Regions from separate parts of the Homo sapiens genome. Here region 1 is linked to region 2. The links come from fine-mapping of genetic effects on gene expression. A gene starts in region 2. The other region holds a variant in brackets. All regions are shown on one strand. Distances are from middle to middle.

Region 1 (2,917 bases), 50 kb before region 2:
CCAGAATCTACACAGAATTTAAACAGATTTACAAGAAAAAAATCAAACAACCCCATCAAAAAGTGGGCAAAGGATATGAACAGACACTTCTCAAAAGAAGACATTTATGCAGCCCAAAAACACATGAAAAAATGCTCATCATCACTGGCCATCAGAGAAATGCAAATCAAAACCACAATGAGATATCATCTTACACCAGTTAGAATGGCGATCATTAAAAAGTCAGGAAACAACAGGTGCTGGAGAAGATCTGGAGAATTAGGAACACTTTTACACTGTTGGTGGGACTTTAAACTAGTTCAACCATTGTGGAAGACAGTGTGGTGATTCCTCAAGGATCTAGAACTAGAAATACCATTTGACCCAGCCATCCCATTACTGGGTATATACCCAAAGGATTATAAATCATGCTGCTATAAAGACACATGCACATGTATGTTTATTGCGGCATTATTCACAATAGCAAAGACTTGGAACCAACCCAAATGTCCATCAATGATAGACTGGATTAAGAAAATGTGGCACATATACACCATGGAATACTATGTAGCCATTAAAAAGGATGAGTTCATATCCTTCGTAGGGACATGGATGAAGCTGGAAACCATCATTCTCAGCAAACTATTGCAAGGACAGAAAACCAAGCACCACATGTTCTCACTCATAGGTGGGAACTGAACAATGAGAACACTTGGACAGAGGATGGGGAACATCACACACTGGGGCCTGTCGTGGGGTGGCAGGAGGGTGGACGGATAGCATTAGGAGATATACCTAATGTAAATGAGGAGTTAATGGGTGCAGCACAGCAACATGGCACATGTATACATATGTAAAAAACCTGCATATGTAACCTAGAACTTAAAGTATAATAAAAATAAATAAATAAATAAATGACAGATGACTTCTCAGCAAACAAACAAACAAACTAACAAAACTAGCCAGAAGGCAGAGCAATGCTCTTAAAGTACTGAAAAAAAAAAAAAAAGTCAACTTAGAATTCTCTACCCAGTGAAAATAACTTTTAAAAAGAAAGACAAAGTACAGACTTTGGAAGATACATAAAATCCGATAGAATTCATCCTAAGCAGACTCACATGATAAGGAATATTAAATGAAGTCCTTCAAACAGAAGAAAAATATTATTACATGGAAATCTGGATCTATATGGAGGAATAAATTGCTCCAGACCTGATCATGCACCATTAGGCCCCATTTCCTCACACTGTTGAATTGGGGATGGTATTAGTCCGTTTTCATACTGCTGATAAAGACATACCCAAGACTGGGTAATTTATTTAAAAAAAAACAAAAACAAAAACGGTTTAATGGACTCACAGCTCCACGTAGCTGTGAAGGCCCCAGAATCATGGCAGAAGGTGAAAGGCACATCTTACATGGCGGCAGGCAAGAGAGAATGAGAACCAAGTGAAAAGGGTATCACCTTATAAAAGCATCAGATCTCGTGAGACTTACTACCACAAAACAGTATGTGGGAAACTGCCCCCATAATTCAATTATCATCTACCAGGTCCCTCCCACAAGATGTGAAAATTATGGGAGCTACAATTCAAGATGAGATTTGGGTGGGGAAATAGCCAAACCATATCAGGGGTTAAGTTTTCCACACACAAATTTTGGGAGACATATTCAGACCATAGTATTCCACCCCTAGCCCC[C/T]CAAATTCATGTCCTTATAACACACAAAATACATCCATTCCATCCCAGTAGCCCCAAAAGTCTTAACTCATTTCAGCAGCAACACAAAAGTCTAAAGTCCAGAGTCTCATCTAAATCAGATATGGGTGAGACTCAAGGAACAATTAATCCTTAAGCAAATTTCCCTGTAAAATCAAACAGGTAAGTTTTGTCGCTCTAAAACACAATGCAGGCGTAAGACAGGTATTTCTATTCCAAAAAGAGAAACAGGAAAAAAGAAGGGAGTTGCAAGTCCCAGAAATGTCTAAAGCCCAACAAGGCATACAATGTTAGACCATAAGGCTGGAGAATAATCTTATGTGGTTCCATGTCCCACCTTCCAGATACGTTGGAAGGATTGAGTCTCTAAGATTTGGACATTCCTGCCCCCATGGCTTTGCTGGCACAGCCCACATTACAGCTCTCACACATTTAAAACCTATGCTTGTAAGCTTTGCCAGGCTGGCACTGCATACCGTGGCTCTTAGTTCTGGAGTATTCAGGTGGCCTTCTTCCCACAGCTCTACCAGGCATTGCAGTAGTGGAGAAGGGGGCTCTCAGTAGCAGCTTATACCCCACAGTTCCCCTGGGCATTGACTTTGTGGGGGCTCTGTGGCAGCCCCATCCCCATAGCAAGTCTCTGCCTGGGCCTTGAAGCTCTCTGCAACAGCCTTTAAACTGCATCTATTTGCAGATAACATCACTGTTTACAGAAAAAATTCTCAAAGAATCTTAAAAGCAAACAACAATAACAACAAAAAACCACCTAGAACAAATAAGGGAATTTAGAAAGTTTGGAGAATATACGGTTAACACAAAAGAAGTCAGTTGAATTTCTATTAATAGATGCTCATAATGAGCCACTGTAAACTCAAATTAAAAATATAATACCACTTATAACAGTGCCAAAAAGACTGAAATACTTAGGCATAAATCTAACAAAACATGTATAGGATCTGTATGCTAAAAACTACAAAATTCTGATGCAAGATTTCAAAGTAAACCTATATAGACATACCATGTTGATAAACTCTATGACTCAATTTTTTTAAATAAATAGAGTAAAACTGATTTTAAAAGTGTATGTGGAAAGGCAAAGTAAGTAAATTATCTAAAATAAAATTTTTCAAAAGAATAAAGTTGGAAGATTCACGTAACTCAATTTTTTTTTTTTTTTTTTTTTTTGATGAGATGGAGTTTCACTCTTTTTGCCCAGGCTA
Region 2 (2,917 bases):
TTTACTGCCCTAAAAGCCAAGCTCGATAAATTGCACAACATAATTTCCATAACTAAACCAGGTTTGTTTAATTTGAATGGCAAGACCTAAAAGGTATAATATAAAGGAATTACAAGACAGAACATTAAAAGACTTTTTTTATCCTTAGGTGGAGAGTACTGTATCTTTTAAATACCTTTCTTATTCCCCTCTCCCCCAACCTTATTAAATTCCTTAAAGGAACAGACCATCTTTGTTCCTATGCTGCAATCTGAAGATCCATGAATAAAGCAGGCACCCAGTAAATACTTGCTAATTTGTGTATTTGACCAACTCTTGACAATTCAATATAACAGACTCAAATATCAAGTTAGTTATAGTTTAAAACAAAACCTTTGTGTGCCCTAGTGAACAATGTAAACACAAATAGCAGAATCCCAAATCTTCTAATCATTGTGTTGCCCTAAATACAAAAGGGTCTCATAGGCCGAATACAGTTCATAAACCAAAATCTCACGTGAGTTACCTTCTCTCTTTCTCTCTATCCACCTTCTAAGTCCATAAAAAATTGAAAACATTCTGAAAAGAACTCTCTCCTGCCTGAGAAAAAATACACCACACATTTAGAACCAAAAGCTTGCCATAAGGGGGCAAAGAGTGAAAAACTCTCATTTCTAATACTTTATTAGAATTCCAAGAACTACGCAAATTCAAACATGTCAAAGCGCCTGTTTCTCCATCGATAAAATGCAGAAAGAAAAACGTGTGTGTGTAGTAGAACCTCACCTAATGGGATAATTAAAATCAGAAAAAGCTAAATACTACTACTGATTAAAAGTTGCCTTGTCATTTGTCTTGCCAGTTGATCTCTTTAAAGTACCTAATCAATCGCTGCAGTCCGCAAACGGCAGTTCCTTCCCATTGGTTACCACAGAAAGTTCTTTCCTGACCTCAAATTGCCTAGTACGTTTCAGCCTCGATGCCTGGTTGGAACCCACAGTTTACCAATATCTGGGGATTGAAAGGACAGGCCAGTGCTGGGGAAATGCTCAAACAGCCTACTCAACACTACCCTCTGGATTCAACCGTCCTCCCAATCCCACAACCAACACAGAGCATTTCAAAAGTGCTTCGCATTCCCAAGAATCCCTCAGATGCAAACGGAGAAACTGAAAAGGGGGTGAACAGGTCGCACCCTGAGGATAATGCCGAGAACCCTAGCATCCCCAAAAGCCCACAAGAGGAAGTCGCGGGAGCTCACAAATTGAGGGGGATTCTCGCATTGTGGAGTTCTAGGGGTAAGTAGCAGGGAACTTTTTTAAAAAGAAAGCAAAAAGATAAAAAGAACAGAACCTCAGATTTTTGTTATTTAAAGAGGCAGCCCCACTTCCGGATCCTACCTCTCCGTGACTCTACTTCCGGTATCTTCCAAAACGCCCGCTTTCACAGATCAAGGTTTTGCAACCAATGAGAGTATCAGCTACTTCCGCCGGCCTGCGGGACGTGATCTAAATCCCGCCTTTTCCGGTGGAGAGGAGCCTATCCTAGTGTCTTAACCGCCCGTCTTGGTAGGCGGTGCCGTGACAAGCCCAACCGGACGGCTGGAGAGGGCGAGAAGGGCAGACGGGACATGCAGCCTCTTCCGCCTGAGCCCCGGAAGGGTGATGTGGCTGCGGCATCGCCGGCCTCGCTATGGTAAGAAGTGGGGCTCCCAGGTCGCGGTTGATCTTCGAGAAGGGGTTGTGGATCTAGACTAGGGCTGGAGTTTGTGCGGCAGCCCGGGGTGTGTGGGCCCGGAGCTGAGAGGCCTTGGAGCCATGTGGTCCCTCCACGGCCAACCAGAGAGAATCAGGACGGACTGTCCGAGGAAGACTGCTGGGTCGGCAGCCCGCCCCTCATGCAAAGTCCGCTTTCCTACTTTGTTTAGGAAAAAAAAATGCGTTGGTGTGTTTTAACACGTTGGCTACGTAGATTATGTGTGGTCATTGACCCTTTGAAGCATTAGCGCTTCTCGAGTTTCCGCTTGTTTTGTTGCAACTCCTTATCTCGCCCTAGGGGCTTTACTCTGGTGTTATTGTTTGATTTTTGGGGGGAGTTTCTTTTGGCACCAAACTCCATACCTTCATTTTCATCTGTTTAGTCAGTAGCCTCTCAAGACCCTTCCACCTTCTTCTCTTAACTTTGAAAATGCTGCTTTACAAGCTATAGGTTTTAATAGTTAAGAGTTCTCTGCAAAGGTGGATTGCCCTTCTAGGAGCTTAATGTACTTATTGGAGTGGTGTCTAGCCTCAGGCCTTCCTCCTCTTTTACCTCCAGGTCCATGTGCCAAATGTTATGTATATTTCTGGACAAAGGATGCATGCCTGCAAATAGACCCAAAAACAACTATGACTCCAAAAAGCTTGAGTCTCCATGGTGAAAAATTATGAGCCTATGTTCACAGAAGTTGCTGCAGAATCCCATATAGCAATAATTCATTTTCTTCTCTGGACGAATTTACCACCTGGTGGGAAGATGGCAGTTGAGACTAGGAAGACTGCCACTCTTAATTCTTATACATCTTTCTAGAAACTGAAGTTGAATTCTTCTACTCGTAGTGCAAGTCAAAGATAACTCTTTTTATTATCTCACTGTCAGACTAGCTAAAAATAAGATGCATATACTGTGCTTAAGATCAACAGTATATAAACTATCTTGTCATGCTTGTTTTTCCAAAAGTAGCAAATGCTTTCATTTATTATCACGTCCTATGTACCAGGCTCTTTTCAAAAAATCAGTTTATAAGCATGGAAATATCAAGTTCACAGCAACTTCTGAATAGATGTTTACAAGTGAAAGAAGTGAAACATGAAGAGACTGACTTGCCTCGGATCACACCTAGTAGATTGTAAAGCCAGTACTCAAACTTATTTTAATGTCCAGGTCCCCGAAATCTTCA

Evidence for each region. PIP is the estimated chance that this variant, and not a neighbour inherited with it, causes the effect.
Region 1: its variant is the best candidate, but not a certain one, in a credible set for the expression of XRCC4 in testis (GTEx, PIP 0.62).

What each region holds. Positions count from the first base shown.
Region 1 is chr5:83,125,952-83,128,868 of GRCh38, reverse strand. The region is part of intron 3 of XRCC4 (X-ray repair cross complementing 4); the gene reads right to left. Among named protein-coding and RNA genes, the nearest start is that of XRCC4, 50 kb to the right of the region's middle. The variant C/T (reference allele first, on the strand shown) is at 1,680.
Region 2 is chr5:83,076,078-83,078,994 of GRCh38, reverse strand. XRCC4 (X-ray repair cross complementing 4) reads right to left here and starts at 1,448. Exons shown (of 8, transcript NM_003401.5): 1 at 1,380-1,448. It overlaps TMEM167A (transmembrane protein 167A), which reads left to right and starts at 1,601. Exons shown (of 4, transcript NM_174909.5): 1 at 1,601-1,674. The coding sequence starts at 1,672. RefSeq lists enhancers at 554-1,519, 1,594-1,863, 1,520-2,485 and a silencer at 1,444-1,533.